Regions from separate parts of the Homo sapiens genome. Here regions 1, 2, 3 and 5 are each linked to region 4. Evidence: fine-mapped expression QTL. A gene starts in region 4. Each other region holds a variant in brackets. All regions are shown on one strand. Distances are between the middles of the regions.

Region 1 (4,122 bases), 63 kb before region 4:
TGTAATGTGCTGTATGATTAACATATGCGTGACTCACATAGTTATCATTTTTGTGATGAGAACACTTAATCCATTCTCTCAGCGTTTTTCAAAAATGCAATATATGGTTATTCACTATAGTCACCATGTTGTACAGTAGATCTCCTGAATCTATATAATATTTCAAAATCGATTTTAAAAGAGAAGTCAGAGAGAACACAGAGAATGGGAGAGGGTCTTCTTCATATATTCTACTTGCCAAGCCACTGGCTTCTAGATGAGAGAGACTGGTAAGTCAAGAGTAAGTAAACATTAAACATTTCCTTGACGATTTCAATACTAGTTCATTAACTTTGAATTTTATAATATACTGGGAAAGCCACTTGAATTTGCTTATCTGTTCTTCAGTGGTAAAGTGCAGGTATTGAGGCAGGAGACTAGCAAAGGGAATTAAAACTTGGATAAAGGGTGGAGTGAATAAAAGCAGAGACCAGAAGCAAGGTGAAGGGGCAGGTAAGCAAGAAGCAAGATAAGAAGCAGAAGTTAGACCAGGCGCGGTGGCTCATGCTGTAATCCTGGCATTTTGGGAGGCCGAAGCAGGTGGATCACTTGAGATCAGGAGTTCAAGACCAGCCTGGCCAACATGGAGAAACACCCCTCTCTACAAAAAATACAAAACTTAGCTGGGTGTGGTGGCGGGCACCTGTAATCCCAGCTGCTACTTGGGAGTCTGAGGTAGGAGAATCACTTGATCCCAGAAAGTAGAGGCTGCAGTGAGCAGAGAATGCCACTGCACTCCAGCCAAAACAAAAAGTAAGATAGAGAAGAAAGCAAGGCCCCCATGGCCGGCAAGATAAGGACCAAACCAGTAAGGGGCAACTCTTCATGGATAAGCATGTGCATTAAAGAGAAAACGTATCCTTAACATGACCTTGTATGAAAATCAGCTCATTCAGGCTTATGCATATGGACTGCATATCATGTATGTACTTAAAATTATGGGCTGGAGGTGGTGCGCAAGCACACAGGGGCCAAAGTAACTAAGCAACACACCTGTCAATCAAAGAGGCAAACACTGGCTAGAGATTAGGCAGCCTTGGGAAGGGACACACACACACACATACACACACACACACACACACAAAGACGCAAACTGCACCAAGCTGGGGGCTGATCTCATCTCACAGAGGCTGGTTTGCTCTCCCCCTCTTAGAGTGTAATACTGTGCTTAATACACTTTTGTTTCTTTGTTTTGCTGTGGGTGTCTCGTCCAATTCTTTGGGACACCAAAAGCCTGGAACTGCATGGCACCATCTGGTAACAGTATGATGTTCGACACCCTTGGCATTTGTTGTAAATTCCTGCTAATAAAAATGATTTGAAGCTGTTTTCTGTTTTTTTGTTTTTAACTTTTAAGTTCAGGGGTACCTGTGCAGGTTTGTTACATAGGTAAGCTGGTGTCATGGGGGTTTGTTGTACAGATTATCTCATCACCCACGTATTAAGCCTAGTACCTACCAGTTATTTTTCCTGATCCTGTCCCTCCTCCCACCTTCCACCCTCTGATAGGTTCTAGCATCTGTTATTCCCCTCTATGTGTCCATGCGTTCTCATCATTTAGCTACCACTTATAAGTGAGAACATGCAGTATTCGGTTTTCTGTTTCTGCATTAGTTACTAAAGATAATAGCCTCCAGCTCCATCCATGTTTCTTCAAAGGATAGGAGCTCCTTATTTTTTATGGCTGCATAGTATTCTATGGCATATATGTACCACATATTTTTGTTGTTAAAGAAAAAGATAAACTGGTTGTTTTAACGTATAACGTATAAGGCTTACCTACCAATGACATTTGATATTTTCCACTGATTTTAGCCAGCTTTCTTCTCTTTTAAGTAGATCGTACTGGTTTTTGGTAATGTCCCCTCAGAAACAACCTACCCGGAATCTTTGCTTTCTGTTAAGTCAACAAATTGCCACATAACGA[G/T]TATGTAATTTAAATTATACAATATTATCTGAAAGGATTTGTGCTGATCATGGACAGGTGTAGGAAGATGTTGGAATCTAGAATATTACACATTTGATATTATCTAGTTCAATCTCTGGCTGACTTAAGTAAATAATGTTGTTTAAGGCATACCTCAAAGGAATTTCAATCTAGTTCAAGATCCAAGGTATGAAAACAAATAAACATGCAAAGTAGGGAGTAAGTCAGTGAAAAAGTGATTTTTATGAATGCCATAGTTCTAAATTGCATTGAGTCAGATTCCCTGCCAAAATCCATGATTGTTCTGTGACTCTTGTGGTTTCTCCTTTTAATTCTTATTTCATCTTATTTTAAAGTATGTACACCATTCATGTGAAAATGAATCAAGGCTGAGGTGGTTTTCTTTTAGTGGTATATTCAACAAAGAATGGCCACTGTGTGGATCCTTCCTTCCAATGAATTTATACTTTGATTCACCACAAGATTGGCATAACTTTGAGAATAGAGACTATTTTAGAAAAAAAAAATCCATAGAATAATACAACATTGAGAAATTCACTACAGATTTAATAAAAATAATAAAAAGGAGTTTCTTCATCCTGTACCATTCTACCACTTTGCTTGCTCAATAGAACCTGAATTATAATATCACTAAATAATGCAAACATGTCCGAGATGCCTGTAGTCACATGAAACATTCATCTGTAAATAGCCATATTCTTGTTGACTTTATTGAGTTGAAAATGGTCCAGTTCATCATTTGAGTTACTCATTCTGAAATTAGTCATTAGAAATCACATTATCCATAGTATTTTAAATTAAGAGGGAAAAACAAGAAGAGTTTGGCCTCCAAAATTACAGCTGAATTGTCACTTGGATTGATTACCCATAAAAGTCATATAAGGTTTGGCATGCCAGAAACCTGTGAAGACAAAATGTGATGATCTTGTGACAAAAATGACAAGTCAATGAGTCAAAAATATGATTAACTTAATAAGAGCGGGAACTCTTAATGGACATGTAAATGACAAACTGATTAGAGAATCTCAGTGAAAAAGGGTGCCATAAACAAAACAGGAAGGCTTCCAGTTGGACCAATGCCCACTTGGGAGGGTATATAAGAGCCCTAACAAAAGAGGAGACATTTGTACCTCAGAATCCTCATCTAAGAAACTGAAAGCTAACCAGACGCCCATTGCCATGGATTGCTGTGCCTCTCGCAGCTGCAGTGTCCCCACTGGGCCTGCCACCACCATCTGCTCCTCCGACAAATCCTGCCGCTGTGGAGTCTGCCTGCCCAGCACCTGCCCACACACAGTTTGGTTACTGGAGCCCATCTGCTGTGACAACTGTCCCCCACCCTGCCACATTCCTCAGCCCTGCGTGCCCACCTGCTTCCTGCTCAACTCCTGCCAGCCAACTCCGGGCCTGGAGACCCTCAACCTCACCACCTTCACTCAGCCCTGCTGTGAGCCCTGCCTCCCAAGAGGCTGCTGATGGATGGCTACTTTGCTCAGTGCCCGACAACGAAGAATCCAGAAGCTGTCCCTTCAGTATTCACTTGCCTCAGTAGTTTGCCAGATGTTAAGGTAGACCAGATGACCCAGATATGAAGAACTTACCTTTGGTTTTAATGGGGGAAAAAAAGAAAAGTATTTTTTATGGTTATTTAGCTGAAAAACCATTTGGTTCCTGTGGGCAGGTGAATGAGTTTTATTAGCAAAATACTGTTTCAATCTTTAAGACCTCAGATTACATGTTCTTGATCATATTGCTTCCTGGCTCTTGTTTCTTGTACTGGGTATTTTCATAGAAGAAAATTTCTTGGTGGGTTTTCCAATAAACTATATTTCTCTGGCAAGATGTGTCATTTGTTTATGTTAGTTTTGGGTATATTTCTTCCATTTTAAAAAGGTAAAAACAGGATGATTATTTTAATCTTTTAAAGAAGACTCTATTGGCAGAATGACTAACATTCTTGCTACTACTAACATGGCTTGCTAACTTTTAACAGGTTCTCTTTCATGTTTGCCTTCTCTTCTCTCTTCTTCCTCAGACAAGTGCAATTTTGGTGTGAACCAACATTTATTTATCTACTCTTCACCAGTAAATTATTGATTTAGTCCTTAAAACAGCACTAATGGATAAGAAAAAAT
Region 2 (4,122 bases), 47 kb after region 4:
CTGTCTCAAAAAAAAAAAAATCAATAATACTGGAGAAAACCTTTCCTACGTACCTTATCAGTACCTTATTATGCACTCCCAGCCTGGTCTCCAAATCAGAATACTCAACAGTCTTCCTCTTCATCCAGGTCTCCTCCACCTAAATCTGACACAAGTGCTACAAACTTGGCATTTCCACAAACACACCATGTTTCCCTTTGCAATGAGATTCTGTCATTTGCAACAACATGGATGGAACTGGAGGTCATTATGTTAAGTAAACCATCTCCCAAACCATCTCCCAGTCCTGTCCCAGTGTCCCCCTTGCCATGGGGTACCACTATCACCACCCAGTCATTCTCATCTCATCCTATTCCCCATGTCCCACACCCACTCATTCCACAAAGGAATCAGGGCCAAAGCCCATGCACACACTATACCCAAGAAAGAGAGACATGCACAGGAGAGATGAACGGGGTGACCAACTGTCCTGGGACTGACTGTCCCAGTTTTAACTCTGAAAGTCTCACATTGCAGAAAGCTCTGTGTCCTGGGCAAACCAGGACAGTTGGTCATCCTGGAGGGAAGGAATTTGAGAGCACAGGGATGGCTTCCTGGAAGAGATGACATGCAGAAGAAGAGAAGGGGATGGAGTATACAGAAGCATGGAATGGAGGAATCAGTGGTGTGTGTTACTGGAGTGTGCCATCTGAGGCATGGAGGGGTGACCAGGGGGTCTAAAAAGGTAGGCAGGAGCTAGATCTTTGAGAGCTGTATATTGGACTTGACTACATACTGTTGTCAGTTTTTTACAGAAGTGAAATAATCAGATTTGCATTTTTAGGTAGGTGTTTGAGACTGGACCTCAACGTTCATGAACTAATGATGGCTAGAAACAGGTGCTAATATTATTTTTAAATTGTCAGTAACTTCTTTACTATGATTCTAGAGGTAGGAACTAGAATTAGTCTTGGTGACAAATTATTCTTCTGTTTTGGGAGGAATTCAGTTGGGCTCTCTCTTAGTCAAGCTTGTGTAAAATAAGTACTCACTTGTCCTTGGCATAACACTGGACATGGGCAAAATAACACGGATACGGAGCCAATTGCAGGGGTGAAGAGGACCGTTGAGCCTGTGGCTTCCCAGTCAGAGATTTAGGATGTTAAATCCAAATGCAGCCCTATCTGGTTTCAAACGTCACCTCTGGGATGAAAAGATTATATCCATCTTGGCTAGGCACAGTGGCTCACACTTGTACTCACAACATTTTGGGAAGCCGACGCAGGAGGATCACGATTAAGATATCCATCTCATCCGTTGAAACTATGCCCCCACACTGGACCACGTAGCCTATAGTACACTAAAATAAGTTAGTATTTTTTAAATAAATCTTGTGATTGGTACAGGTTTATTGTATTATGAGATTTTGTGTTGCAAATGGTAATGTAAAGGAAATATAAACACTTTAAATTTTTTTCAATTGTTTAATATACCAGGAGCTTCAAAAATTGGAAATGGTCTAGATGCCCCTCAGACTCTGAAAGGACTTGCAAAGGAGTGTGCATCAGAGACAGGAGGAATCTGTGACCATCATTTGCAATCTACATTATCTATATGTATATCTCTTAAGCATACATTATTTCGTTTTGCCTGTTTTTATACTATATATCAATAAAATCTGGATGGATTCTGTTGTCTTTTTTCAGCATTATGTTTTTTAATATTTATCCATGTCAATAATGTAATTTATCTTTTTTTTATTTTTATTTTTTATTTTTTTTTATTTTTTTTTTTAGGCAGAGCCTGGCTCTTTTGCCCAGGCTGGAGTGCAGTAGCATGATCTCGGCTCACTGCAACCTCCACCTCCTGGGTTCAAGCGATTCTCCTGCCTCAGCTTCCCGAATAGCTGGGATCACAGGCGCCCACCACTATACCCAGCTAATTTTTGTATTTTTAGTAGAGACGGGGTTTCACCATATTGGCCAGGCTGGTCTCGAACTCCTCGCCTCAAGTGATCTACCCAACTCAGGCTCCCAAA[G/A]TGCTGGGATTACAGGCATGAGCCACAGCGCCCAGCTAATTTATCCATTTTTAGCTGTTGCATAGCATCCCACTGTACGAACATGTATCAACGCATTTATTCATTCTACTCTTAACATTTGAGTTGTTTCCAGTTTTCTGTTGTGTGTGTGTATGTTAGTACGTGTGTGTGTTGTTAATATGAACAATGCTTCTGTGAATATTCTTGTACATGTCTATCGTTCAATATTTACAAGAGTTTCTCTGAAGTGTACACCTAGGAATTGTTTGCTGAGTGATGGCTATATGAATGTTCAGCCTTCTAAGATAATCTCAAACTATTTTACAAAGTGATTGTACCTACTTATACAGCTAACATGAATGGACTGGAATTCCCCTCGGCCACCTTGCTATCGTCCAACTTTTTAAATTTTTCCGATTGGCAGATGTGGAATGGGCCATTCAGCTTTCCTCTTCTCTGCAAATCTATTCATATTTTGCCCACTTTCTCACTGGGATGCTTTTCTTTTTCTTATTGATTTGTAGGAATTTTCCATATTCTGGAAACTAATTGCTTGTCAGTTACATGACTTCTAAATATCTGCTCCCTGTTTGAGGCTTTTTTCATTATAATTATGGTATATTTTAATGAATAAAAATTGCTAAATCAGTATCAATTTTGTACTTCACAGTTTTCACTTTTTGTGTCTTGTTTAAAAATACTCCTTTACTCTAATTCCTAGAGATATTATTCTGTGTTTTCTTCTAAATGTTGTATAGTTTTTAACTTTTCACATTTTTATCTTTAATGAATCTGGAATTCATTTTCTTATATTTTAGGTAAATTTTGCCTTAGACAGAAATACAACTGCCATTTGTTAAATATGGGATACTCCATTTCTTTCCTCATTGATTTGAAATGCCCAAGCCGTACAAAATTAGTTTCTATAGGCAACAGATCTGTTTCTGAGCTCTTTGTGCTAATTCACTGGCTTATTTCCAGATCATTGTAAGAGCCATCATGTGAAAGGCAAAACCATAAAATTAGAAAACATAATATGCATTCTTTTTTTTCTTCAACTTTTATTTTAAGTTCAGGGGTAAATGTGCAGGATGTGCAGTTTTGTTACATAGGTAAACATGTGCCACGGTGGTTTACTGCACAGATCATCCCAACACCCAGGTATTAAGCCTAGCGTCCATTAGCTATTCTTCCTGATGCTTTCCCCCCAACCACAGGTGCCAGTGTGTGTTGTTCTCCGCCATGTGTCCCTGTGTGGAAAATATAATATGCATTCTTAACCTGTCAATATCTAAAGTTAATCTGTATGTTTGCTGTTTTCCTAAACAGTCCCGCAATTTAGAACAATTTAACTCCATTCATCCCCTTCCAGCCCTCATCTACTTTAATTCCATATTGTTTTTTCTTCTCAATAGATATATTATTTTATAGCCAATACTTGTCTTTACATTTACATTTGGTCGCATGCTTAGCACTCTATTTGTTCATTATTTTAATTCTTTTATGCATCTCAGAACTTTCATCTGGAATCATCTTCCTTCTGCTTAAAACACATTCTTTCAGATTGCTCTTAGTGAAAACTTAGAAGTTGATGGCAAATTCAGTTTTTTAAATGTTGAAAATGGCTTTATTTTACCCTTCTTCAAATATAATGTTACCGAGTCAGAAAATTCCGGAATGGCAGTTATTTCCTCCCAGCACATTGAAGATTCTATTCCATTTCCAGTGTCCATTGTTGCTTTTGAGGAGTCAGTCATCAGTCTAACCACCATTCCTTTGTTGGTGATTTATTCTCTATCTGCTTGTAATTATCTGGTTTTCTGCCTCAATGTGTGTAGTGATTTATTTTTATTCCTTTTGCCTGGAATTCATTAGGTCTCCTTAATCTGAGAACTTGGGTTTTTTTTAAAGAATTCTATAAAATTCTCACTTTTTATTTTGTTGAATGTTTTCTTATTCTCTTGTGTCTTCTTCTGGAACTCTGATTAGACATATTTAGACCTTCTAATTATAGCCTTCATGCCTTCTTGACTTCCTCCTTCGTCACTTAGCTGCATTCTGGAAATTTTCCTCAGAGCTACATTTTGTTCAATAATCCTGGCTTA
Region 3 (4,122 bases), 56 kb before region 4:
CCTATCTTGTTTATTGCTATAAATCCAACATTTATCACAGTGACTAGCACATAGTAACTGCTCAGTAAATGTCTGTTGAATTACTTTTTAAATAATAAGTGAAATACTAATCAGTTCTAAGTAAAAGGGTGCACACTTCGGCAGGCATTCATACAAAGATAAATCTGGGGAAAGTCCAGGAACCAGAAGATATCATGAATTCTCCCTTTCAATCAGAGCCATAGGGAGCTTTTCAAATTTTTAGGTTTGTTAATTTATATGCCAACCACTTTCTCTAATCGTAGATGTGATTATTTATTTATTTATTTATTTGTATAAACTAATATAAATGTTTGCTCTTTCCTGTAAGGTTGCTCTCTTACTTACCTTCATCTCATTTTCTTTTCTTCTTTTGACTATGTTTCTTTTATCTTTACCTTGCCTTGAATTTCATCTGTAATTTGTTTCAATCATGATAATAATTTATTTTTGCATAGCATTATATGGTTGTCCATGAGCTTTCACCCTTTTTATCACATGTGAACCTCACAATAATCTTCTAAGTGGAGGAATATGCATGCTATTACCCTGATTTCGCAGAGAAAAAGGATGAAGCTCCTAAAAGTGAATTACTTACCATAACGAGGAAGATAACCAGCAGCACCGGGAACAGTCAAGAGCTATTCTGACTCCTCAGGTGGTCCTCTTGACTACACGTCCCCATTCCCAAAACATACAAACATGCACACCACAATGCACCACTCAACAGGTGTGCCTAAAAGAGGAGGTATGAAGAATGTGAGAAGAACCATGGCTTGCAAGAAGCATGAGACCAAGCTGAGCGGAAATGGTTCGAGGTGTATAAATGATATTGGCCACAAGCCCACCTTGTGCTCCCTCTTAAACACTGAACTATGCCTGCAGTCTAAATAGCGTACTGGTACTAGAACCAGGTCTTTCCTACCACAGCTACATTTGATTTCAGGAAAAAATGCAATACCTTGCAAAAAAAAAAAGAAAAAAAAGAGAGAGAGAGAATGAAATCAAATGTCAACAGATTAATCTAGCTCAGGCTCATAAGTTTCCTTTGGTAATAATTTTACTTGAATTTTAGTTTTGTATTCTTAAGTTATTATTTTATTTAGTCTATATAGACAGAAGCTAAAAATTCAATTTGCCCACAATTAGCAGTGAAGGAAACAAAGCAAGCCAACTCTCAATAGAAGACAGATGGCCAATATGCATATGAAGGAATATTTCAACCTAGCTGGTTATAAAAGAAATACAGACACAACAATCATAAAATTGTGTTTTTCACCAATGAAATTGGAAAACACCTTTAAAATAAAGTATCTGTCAAAGGTATACGAAATGGGAATTCTTAATCAAACACATCTGGTGGAAATAGATAATTTGAAAAAAAAAGTAGGTAAATAGAACCATTCTGAAAAACAGTATGGCAATGATATGAAAGGCCTTAAAAATACTGGAAATTAACATTTGCCCCTATAATTCTACCAAATAATTAATTCTGTTTCTGAAATAATCAAAAATATGCACAAAGATTTACATACAGAGGTGCTCTGTTGCCAAAATTATTGTAGAGAAAAGTGGAAAATAACCTCAATGCATAATAATATAAAATTTTAAAGTAACATAGAAGTGCAATTATATAATAAATGCTAAGAAATATTAAAAGTAACACTATCAAATATCCTTTAAAATATAAGATAATTATATATATATATAATATATATGCACACACACAAAGGCAAGTTTCAGAACCTATGCACAATATGATTCCAGTAATGTAATGTAATGATAAACAATGTATACAAAATATTTTGTAGTAAAAAACTAGAATAATAAGCGTTTTTTAAAGTTTTTCCATATTTCTTAATGGCATATTTCTTCATGTTAATGTAATTTTGATCTTCAAAAGCCTCAAAGCTAAAAGAAAGTAAAATTAAGTTCAACTCTTTAAAACAAGAATACTTTATCAGACAAATTGGTATAGATAAAGTGACAGATTAAAAATAAAGCAGCACTGGAGAGCAGGCCCACATATTACAGACTCACTGTCATGCAATATTCCCCAGCAGGGCTGGTGTTGAAAATATAATAACAGAAGGCTTTGGTGATACCTCATAAAGCTTGTGTTCCAGTGACAAATAGCAAG[G/C]GTAATCAGTTCAGATTTAGCAACGAACTCAAATAAAAGTTAATTAGGAAAATGGGGACTCTTTACAGAGTCTAAATGTCAAACAAATTAAAGAATAATGGGTACACTAACATAAACAAGAACCAGGAAAGAAGCCTCTTGGCTGGACCAACTCCCAGTGGAGAGGGTACATAAGAGCCCCAGAGAAAGGAGAGATATTCACACCTCAGAAGCCTTATCCTTCTTTTCAATCAAACCCATAAATACCACAGACTCTAATAGCCATGGATTGCTGTGCCTCTCGAGGCTGCAGTGTCCCCACCGGGCCTGCCACCACCATCTGCTCCTCTGACAAATCCTGCCGCTGTGGAGTCTGCCTGCCCAGCACCTGCCCACACACAGTTTGGTTACTGGAGCCCACCTGCTGTGACAACTGTCCCCCACCCTGCCACATTCCTCAGCCCTGCGTGCCCACCTGCTTCCTGCTCAACTCCTGCCAGCCAACTCCAGGCCTGGAGACCCTCAACCTCACCACCTTCACTCAGCCCTGCTGTGAGCCCTGCCTCCCAAGAGGCTGCTAATGGATGGCTACTTTGCTCAGTGCCTGAGATTGAAAAAGTCAACATAGAAGCTTTAGCATTCACCTATCTCAGTACCTACAACTAATGTACTCTGCTTTAGAAATTGGAACAAGGATGGTACTACCACAATCACCCCCTGCAAAAAAAAAGAGACCAAGAAACTTTCAATGACCATTCAGCTATAACCAACTGCAGTTTGAATCAGTGGATGCCTATAGCTTCCTGAAGCTGTTCGATTCCTTCATATTAAAGTGTCTCTTTCTGTGGGTGGTTTGGGAATTCTGTTTTCAGTCTTGGGTGGTATCTTTCTGAAAATTAAGGAAGTTCTTCATGATTATCCTAATAAATTTTACATCTCTGGCATAGCACAAGTGTCTACAATTACTTCTGTTTATTTCTGTTCATTCATTAAATGCGTTTCTTAACTCTGAACATTGGCATTTAAAGAAAAACTGGAAACATTAGTGAAACTGAAAATGGTGGCAGTATGGACAAAAATTTCTTAATTTTGCTGTTCTTGCTGTTTTAAGAAAATTAAACATCCTTGCATGTAAGATGGTCTAGTACATCGGCATATTTGAAAGTAGACTTTTCCTGACTTGTCCTCCCAAAAAATGGTTTCAGACAGGTTGAGAAATACTGAACATTACCCAAACACCAAATATGACAAAATATATAAACTAATCCAGGTGACATGATCTATTTATGAAAAAAATATAATAATGTCATTATTTATTCAACTAAGATTTATTAAATGTCTATTGTGTGTCCTGTGTTTTATTGTCTCTGCTGAAAATAAGCTAACCATCTGGCAGGTGAAGCAAATACAAACACAACATCCATTTGTTTCTTCCTACGGTTAATAATTATCGAATGCCAGTTGCTGTGTTATAATAAAAAAAGATGTGTTCTACCAGCAGTATTAGTAAAGTGCTGTGGGATCATAAAATTGAGAACAATGAAGACTGTTGTCATGGGGGTAAAGTGGGAAAGACATAGTCAAAGAGGAATTGACTGCAGCTAGTCATCAAAGGGATATGGAGGAAAAGAAAATATCAAAGAAAGACTAGACAGTGGAGTTATGTCACCAATTGAGCCTAGGAGCCGAGAAGGAGAAGAGAGTTCAAGATGGAAATACTCTGTTCTTCTTGCTCTACACAGGTCATGTTTGCAACACGAGTAGCTATATCTAAATGGGGTTTGGAAAGTTATTCTGGAGAGGAAGAAGATATACGTAGGTAAGTAAAGAAGACTGTGTAAAAGTTCTCAAGTACTTACAGAAGGCACAGTTGCAAATACGCTGGCTGAAATTCCATCAGGCATAGCAAAGAGTGGCTGCTGGGTGATTAGAAGCTGAGTGGAGATACCAGAGGTCATTCACTATTAACAGACTTTGAGGTTCCA
Region 4 (4,122 bases):
AAACGTTGTGTGTGTGTGGTAGAATTTTTAAATATTTTTTCCTGTACCATCATGTATCACTTGATTTTGTATAATAAGCATGTATCATTTCTTTTAATGCTTTTAAAATGATGCTTTTAAAAAAGCATCATTTCTTTTAAAATCCAATGGAACTCTACACATTAGAAGTTATGGAAAACCAGGGCCGGGTGCGGTGGCTCATGCCTATAATCCCAGCACTTTGGGAGGCCGAGGTGGGTGGATCACAAAGTCAGAAGTTCAAGATCTGCCTGGCCAACATGGTAAAACCCCGTCTCTACTAAAAACTACAAAGATTAGCCGGGCGTGGTGGCACGCACCTGTGGTCCCGGCTACTCGGGAGGCTGAGGCAGAAGAATCGCTTGAACCCGGGAGGTGGAGGTTGCAGTGAGCCACGATCACATCACTGCACTCCAGCCTGGGCGACAGGGCGAGACTCTGTCTCAAAAAAAAAAAAAAGAAGTTATGGAAAATTGGCTGGGCAGGGTGGCTCATGCCTGTAATCCCAGCACTTTGGGAGGCCAAGGCAGGCAGATCATGAGGTCAGGAGTTCAAGACCAGCCTGGCCAACATGGTGAAACCCCGTCTCTACTAAAAATACAAAAAATTAGCTGGGCATGGTGGTGCGCACCTGTAATCCTAGCTACTCGGGAGGCTGAGGCAGGAGAATCGCTTGAACCCAGGAGGCGGAGGTTGCAGTGAGTCAAGATTGCGCCATTGCACTCCAGCCTGGGTGACAGAGCAAAACTCCATCTTGAGAAAAAAAAAAAAAGAAGTTATGGGAAACCATCATATAACAGTACTAGAAGAGACTATTTCTCCCCAGTGCTCTCAGATCTCACCACCAGTTTTTCCTGGCCCTGGTCCTGCTATGACACAAGAAATCTTTTGCTCAAGGATAAGTCCTATAAATCAAAACTCCCACACATGGACATAAAATGAGACAGTGGCCAAATCTATGGGGTTGATAAGTCACTGCCACTCAGACATGCCTGAAATAATTAGAGAAGCATTAATTTCATTGTAGATTCTGGTGAGAGAATTTAGAAAAAGGCAGTGCAGCCCGGCCCTTGCACATGCTAAAGGTAAATGTTTTCTTCCTTGGTAAGTCTGGGTCCAGGCGAACAGGAACCAGAGCTGACCATAACTTTGATGACCAGGAACCGTCCACATCCACAGAACACTGGTTGCCACCACTCGCCAAACAAGTCTCTCTAGTTCCCTCATTTGCTCTATTTTTATCACTTGTCTCTTTTGTCTTTTTCTCATATCTGAGATGTAAGTGACTGTCGGCACTCTTTCTAAGCACTCTCCAAGCTTCCCTGAGGCTTGGAGGCTCATTTTTCCAGCTCGTGCACAGTGAAATAAAAAATATTCAGAGACTCTTCCCTGATAAGGTTTTGTTGTAAGACTGGGAGGAGCAGAGCTGGTGTGCTTTTGGGTGGCTTTATTTGTAATTGGAAAAGATTGGCCTTCATGGATGGTTAATCTATACCCAGGAGAGGCGTTTTCCTACTTTCTAGTTCTATAACTCACAGTCCTAAAAGGAGCAGAAGTTGATGGCATCAGGAGACCTGTGTTAAAATCCTGACTCTAAAAAGTTTATGATTGAGTCAACATACATTTGCAAAATACCACCAAGAAACCAGACTTTGGTGCTCAAAAATGGAAGACATAAACTCTGCTTTCAAGAAGCCTGCGGTCTCAGAAGGGTGTGGCAAATGCAGTATAATGGAGTGAAAGAACGGAGTGGACTTCATCCCAGGCACAGGAGGTGGCTGCGCCTGGCTAGGGGCTCCCAGCTTCCACCATGAGGTGGGATGCCAAGGTGTCTGCCCCTCTGGAGGACCTCGGCATCCAGAAGAGGCAGTTTCCTCCTAGAGGGTCACCCAACTCATGCAGGAGAATTCAGAAAATGATTGTTGAAGGAGGTAGCCCTTGAACTATAGAAGAGGTAGGGGTGAGTGACTTTCCAGGCAGGGAGGACAGCACAGACTCGGGCAGTGTCACCTATGAATTCATGTGCTCAATTACACTGTACATGCGAATCAGCTCTGGATCATTCATCCCTATGAGACCCTGATTCTTTGTCTGCAAAATGAAGACAACAACCCTTGCCTGGATACATAAAGAGTTGTGAGGATTCAATAAAGAATATAAAAGAGCTACACCAATTGGCAAGTCCTATTATTATGAAAGAGAAGTGTGGTACAGGACCTGTCAAGATTCAACCCAAGATAACAGTGCTATGTGGAGAAAGAATCTAGCCCTGGCTCTGCCACTAACCTCCCCACCACCATAGGCCTCAGCTTTCCTCATCTGTCCAATTAGTGGCTTGGAACCAGAAAGGCCAGAAGCCCTTCCTGCGCTGATATTTTATTTGTAAGTCCCCTTTAAATCCAACTGCCAGTAACTAGCACGTGGCTCCCGCCCCCAGACTGCTTCTTTATTCATTCCTAACCTTTACCTTGGCAGATGAAATATAAGATTCATCAACCACATTTGACAGCCCATGGCAGGTTTCCTGTTTTCCATCGTCCCTCTGCAGGTCACAGACACACAGAGCCCAGCCGTGGCAGGCTCAGCCGGGGTCCGGGGCTGCTAACAACGGCTACATTCCTCCCCCAGGGCCAAGGGAAATCCTGAGCGCAGGCCAGGGTTGTTTGGTTTTGAGGTGTGCTGGGATGAAAGGCACCCTGGAAGTGGAAGGTTCGGTCATTCATTAATTAATTACATCTATAATTGAGGGTTTGTTCTTAAGAGCGAGTCCTTTGAAAGTACTTTCCTTCAAACAGTGACTGCCACAAAGGCATCAGATATTCACCACCTTCTCGGCTGCCTCAGCACAGCAAGCTTTATTCTGGGACCTGAGATCCTGTTCTGAGCTGGCTTTCCCTTCTCCAGGCTCGCTCACCCTCCCTTTAGAGGTGGGGCTTATTGGGGGTGGAAAAAGGTGTGTGTATCTCTGTTGTTTAATGTCTGGTTTTTTGTTGCTGTTGTTGTTGTTTTGTTTTGGTTTTGGTTTTTGGTTTTTTTTAAGGAAATCTATACTACATCGAATATGCTTTCTTTTGGGTGGACTTTAACCTAACCCATTCCAGGTAAATGAACAATGGAAAAACTTCACGGCAAGATTAGAAAGATACCTGAGCCCAATACCCGCCTGATGTCGTGGGCCACACCTCCGGGTTACCAGGGGAAGGGAGGAAGCAAACTGTCATATTGATGTGGCTCTAAACAACAACAGTGTGCGAAGGCCCAGGGGCACTTTGGGATTGACCAAGAGGAAACACAAGTTGCACAATGATACAATCTTGTTGGTACAATTGTCAGAGAAGGGAACTCCCACAGCAAAGGCCATAAAACCATCCAGGGCAGTCTGGGGCGGCTCAGTTCTGCGGTGCCAGGGAGTGGAGCAGAGCTCAGCCCCGTCCCAAACACAGATGGGACCATGAACTCCGGACACAGCTTCAGCCAGACCCCCTCGGCCTCCTTCCATGGCGCCGGAGGTGGCTGGGGCCGGCCCAGGAGCTTCCCCAGGGCTCCCACCGTCCATGGCGGTGCGGGGGGAGCCCGCATCTCCCTGTCCTTCACCACGCGGAGCTGCCCACCCCCTGGAGGGTCTTGGGGTTCTGGAAGAAGCAGCCCCCTACTAGGCGGAAATGGGAAGGCCACCATGCAGAATCTCAACGACCGCCTGGCCTCCTACCTGGAGAAGGTTCGCGCCCTGGAGGAGGCCAACATGAAGCTGGAAAGCCGCATCCTGAAATGGCACCAGCAGAGAGATCCTGGCAGTAAGAAAGATTATTCCCAGTATGAGGAAAACATCACACACCTGCAGGAGCAGGTAAGATGCTGGGTGACCCTGGAGATCCAGATGGGGCTGCTTTGCCAGGGGACCCTCGGGAGGAAAAATGAGTCCAGAAGACAATTTCCAGGAAAATGGCATCAGCGCTTGAAGTAATTGTGCACAAAGGTTTTGGGGGATGTTTTCTTATTATATCTTAAATTTGGAGTGGGAAACGTCTGTTTTGTTTAATTAGTCTACTGTCCATGGATAATGTAGAAAAAGAAGGCAGCAAAAATGATAGAAGTGCTACAGAC
Region 5 (4,122 bases), 160 kb before region 4:
TCATGTGTCAAAACCCAGTTAAAATATTTCCTTCTCAATAATATATTTCCTAATAAGCTACCCCATTCATCTATTATTATTTCCTGTCTTGTGCTCATAATTTGATACATTCTACTGTATCATAGACATTTACTTCTTTCATTCCCCCATATACAGTGCAAATACCCTGAATGCATGGGCTATGATGTTTCTTTTTGTTACCATGATACTCAGGACAGAGAACACTGGTGATAAATGTTTCTTGAGTGAATGAAGGCTTTTTGATGACATAGAAGCATGTAAGGTCCTTTAAAAGTGTATATATCTTTTGACTTCTGGATAAAAGAGAGGAAAACATTCCAAACAAGGGGATCAGAGTTTCATTTCAGGAAAACTACACTTATTTCTATGGTAAGTAACATGTCCCCTGATAAATAACATATGTGGAAAGTTGTGGAAGTTAGGATTCTGTTTATAGAATGAGACTTGGTTATAGATAACCAGGAATACCGTGTCTTCCCACTGTGGAAGGAAAAAGAGAGGGTGAGACAGAGAAAGAGGGAGTCAAACTCATCCTTTTATAAGGAACCCTCTTTTGTGATAACAGCATTAATCCACTCATGAGGGTGGTGTCACCATGACCCAAACATCTCCTGTTAGGCCCAACCTCCCAACACTGCGGCATTGAGGATCAAGTTTCCAACACATGAACTTTGAGGGACACATTCAAACCATTGCATTCCACCCTTGGTCCCCCAAATCCATGTCCTTCTCGTACACAAAATATATTCATTTTATTCCAATAGTCCCAAAGTATTAACTTGTTCCAGCACCAACTTAAAAGTCAAAATGTAAATCTAAGAGTCTCATGTGACTCTGATATGAATAAGACTCAACACAGGACTTATCCTGAGGCAAATTCTCCTCCATATGTGAACCTATTAAAGAAGTTATCTAGTTCCAAAATCCAATGGTGGGAGAGGCATAGGATAGACAGGCCCATTCCAAAAGGCAGCAACAGGAAAGAAAAAAGGGTAACTGGCCCCAGGTGAGTCCAACAGGGAAGACAGCATTAAATCTTAAGACTGGAGAATAAACTTCGACTCCATGTGCTGTCTCCTGGATGTGCCCGACATGGGGAAGGGCTGCCTGGGGCCTTGGTGTTAGGCCCCAAATGCCCTCAGATAGCCCTGCCCCATGGCTTTGCTGGGCTCAGCCCATACAGCAGCTATCTGATTGGAGTCTCTGCTGCAGCTCTCTCAGGCTAGTATTGCAGGCTGATAGTTCTACAGTTCTAGGGTCTCAGTGGCTGCTCTGACCCCCCGTTTTCCTGAGCATGGCCCTAGGAGGACCTCTCTGCTGTGGCTACACCCCTAAGGCAGGCTGTCAGAAACATCCTTTCAAACCTAGGTGGACCACCATTGCCCCACAACTCCTGCAGTCTGTGTATCTACAGTCAGTACTACATGAACACCACCAAGGCTCACAGTTTGTGGCCTCTGCAGCAGCAGCGCAAGTCTCATCTAAACCCACTTGAGCCACAACTGGAGCAGCAAAGGGGCACTGTGCTAGAATGTGGAGAGTACCAAACCCTTTCTGACCTTAAGATTCTCTCATTTGGAGCCTGTGATGGGAGGGACAGCTTCAAAGATCTTTGAAATGCCTTCAGAGCCATTCTCCCACTGATTTGATGAACAGCACCTAGCTTCCTTCTATTCATATCAATCCTTGTAACAAAGCATTACTTGGCCACAATCTTGCATGCTTTTTCATTCTTTATATGGTCAGTCTCCACATTTTCCACATCTTTATGTTCTGTTTCCCTTTTAATTATGAATTCCACCTTTAAATCATTTCTTTCCTCTTGCATTTTACTATGTGCAGTTCAAAGATGCCATGCAGCCCCAGTGCTTCCAGTCTGTGTGCTGCCAGCCCACCCAACTGCTGTCACCCCAGCTGTTGTCAGACCACCTGCTGCAGAACCACCTCCTGCTCCCACAGCTGCTCTGTGTCCAGCTGCTGCAGACCCCAGTGCTGCCATTCCGTGTGCTGCCAGCCCACCTGCTGCCGCCCCAGCTGCTGTCAGACCACCTGCTGCAGGACGACCTGCTGCCACCCCAGCTGCTGTGTGTCCAGCTGCTGCAGACCCCAGTGCTGCCATTCCGTGTGCTTCCAGCCCACCTGCTGCCACCCCAGCTGCTGCATCTCCAGCAGCTGCTGCCCCTCTTGCTGTGAATCGAGCTGCTGCTGCCCCTGCTGCTGCCTGCGTCCAGTCTGTGGTCGAGTCTCCTGCCACGTCACTTGCTATCA[C/T]CCAACCTGTGTCATCTCCACCTGCCCCCACCCCTTGTGCTGTGCCTCCCCTCCCCTTCCCCTCCCCTTCCCTTCCCCACCCGTTCCCCTCCCTTTCTTCCTTTCCCTTGCCCTCCCCTCCCCTCCCCGCCCTTCCCCTCCCCTCCTCTCCCCAGTGTTAATCCCCTCCCCTTCCCCTTCCCCTTCTCTCCCTTCACTTTCCCCTCCCCTCCCCTCCCCTCCCCTCCCCTCCCCTCATTTCCCCAGTGTTAATCCCAAGAGCATGCTTCAATAAACCTCCTGCATATTGCTCTCCATCTCAGTGTCTGCTTCCTGGGGAACCCAGCCTGTCCCCCAAAACAATTTGAAATTCATGATAGCTAATTTGAGAGCTCAAATGACTGACTGAAATGTACTTTTAATATTTTAGTTCCTGAAAGAAATAAGAATGTAAACATAATAGCAGAAAACATACTTAACAGAATCTGTAGAAAAAATTATGAATTTTATATAAATCAAATTTATTATTTTCTAAGGATTTTTATATCATTTATACACAAATATATGCTCTTTAAACATTTAGACAATACAAAAGAATGCAACCAAAGGTAAGTTTCCCATCACGGTCTTTGCCAATCCCATTCAATACCTAATGTTACAAATTGAGATACATCCTCATTAAATGCATGCATAACACATGTATGTATTTATTTGAAAACTTGGCTTTCGTTGCACATCTCTTGTTCTGACATTTATTCAAACGTTATTTTATGTCCTTCAGGAAATATTAACACTTTCCTTCACATAGGCTTGGCAGATTTATTTACATATTTTTCTATTTACTCTTGAGAATTGTGAGCACATTGTTCTTTTTTAAAATTATTCTTAAAGTCCTAGGGTACATGTGCACAATGTGCAGGTTTGTTACATATGTATACATGTGCCATGTTGGTGTGCTGCACCCATTAACTCGTCATTTACATTAGGTGTTTCTCCTAATGCTATCCCTCCCTCCTCCCCCCACCCCACGACAGGCCCCAGTGTGATTTTTCTCCATTAAATTTTAGAGACAATTATTGCTAGTGTATAAAAAGTCTATAGATTAGTATAAGTTCATATTTTATCTGATCTCATGATTCATACTAATACCCAGCTGACTCTCCAGGATTTTGTAGGTGTGCAATCATGGTGGCCAAGTGCCTCCAGCCTCAGGCCTGTCCCCGGGGTTCATCCCCAGATGCCCACAGTGGGGGTCCTACCATTAACACAAACACTGTTGGGATTTTCTACCTTTTCTGTCTTACTTTCGCCATTTCCTCACTTGTGCTTCCTGGGATCATCCCCCAAATAAATTATGTGCACCCAGGTATTTTTCTCAAGGTTTGCATTGGGTAGAATTTAAGTTAAGACAACAGATGATCAACAAACATTTTTGGCTGACTGATACGAAACTGGAAATAATAGTTATTTCAATCGACAAGAGTAAAACGAGGGAGTCAGGAGGTGAAGGAGAACCAGTGCTACCATCTGGCGTTTACTTCCTTCCTGTCTTTTTACTGTGTGAATATAGGCATGCACGTTCAACACTGTATTCCTGGTTATCTATAAACAAGTCTCATTCTATAAATTGAATCTTAACTTCCACAACTTTCCACATATGTTATTTATCAGATGACATGTTACCTACCACGTAAATTAGTTTAGTCTTCCTGAAATGAAATTATGATCTCTTTGTTTGGAATGTTTTCCTCTCTTTTATCCAGAAGTCAAAAGATATATACATTTTTAAAGGACCTTACATGCCTCTATGTCATCAAAAGCCTTCCTTCACTCAACAAACATTTACCACCAGTG

Evidence for each region. PIP is the estimated chance that this variant, and not a neighbour inherited with it, causes the effect. A credible set is the group of variants that fine-mapping cannot tell apart.
Region 1: its variant is the best candidate, but not a certain one, in a credible set for the expression of KRT23 in whole blood (INTERVAL, PIP 0.60).
Region 2: its variant is the best candidate, but not a certain one, in a credible set for the expression of KRT23 in whole blood (TOPMed, PIP 0.67).
Region 3: its variant is the best candidate, but not a certain one, in a credible set for the expression of KRT23 in whole blood (INTERVAL, PIP 0.67).
Region 5: its variant is the best candidate, but not a certain one, in a credible set for the expression of KRT23 in whole blood (TOPMed, PIP 0.54).

The regions. Positions count from the first base shown.
Region 1 is chr17:40,998,898-41,003,019 of GRCh38, reverse strand. It overlaps KRTAP3-2 (keratin associated protein 3-2), which reads left to right and starts at 3,114. Exons shown (of 1, transcript NM_031959.3): 1 at 3,114-3,827. The coding sequence starts at 3,167. The coding sequence ends at 3,463. The variant G/T (reference allele first, on the strand shown) is at 1,967.
Region 2 is chr17:40,889,076-40,893,197 of GRCh38, reverse strand. All of the region lies in intron 1 of LOC105371777 (a long non-coding RNA gene), which reads right to left. Among named protein-coding and RNA genes, the nearest start is that of KRT20, 5.9 kb to the right of the region's middle. The variant G/A (reference allele first, on the strand shown) is at 2,018.
Region 3 is chr17:40,992,397-40,996,518 of GRCh38, reverse strand. It overlaps KRTAP3-3 (keratin associated protein 3-3), which reads left to right and starts at 2,355. Exons shown (of 1, transcript NM_033185.3): 1 at 2,355-3,089. The coding sequence starts at 2,422. The coding sequence ends at 2,718. The variant G/C (reference allele first, on the strand shown) is at 2,159.
Region 4 is chr17:40,935,951-40,940,072 of GRCh38, reverse strand. It overlaps KRT23 (keratin 23), which reads left to right and starts at 2,427. Exons shown (of 9, transcript NM_015515.5): 1 at 2,427-2,727; 2 at 3,120-3,865. The coding sequence starts at 3,470. All of the region lies in intron 1 of LOC107985072 (a long non-coding RNA gene), which reads right to left.
Region 5 is chr17:41,099,943-41,104,064 of GRCh38, reverse strand. KRTAP4-16 (keratin associated protein 4-16) reads left to right here and starts at 1,856. Exons shown (of 1, transcript NM_001396067.1): 1 at 1,856-2,563. The coding sequence starts at 1,856. The coding sequence ends at 2,563. The variant C/T (reference allele first, on the strand shown) is at 2,290.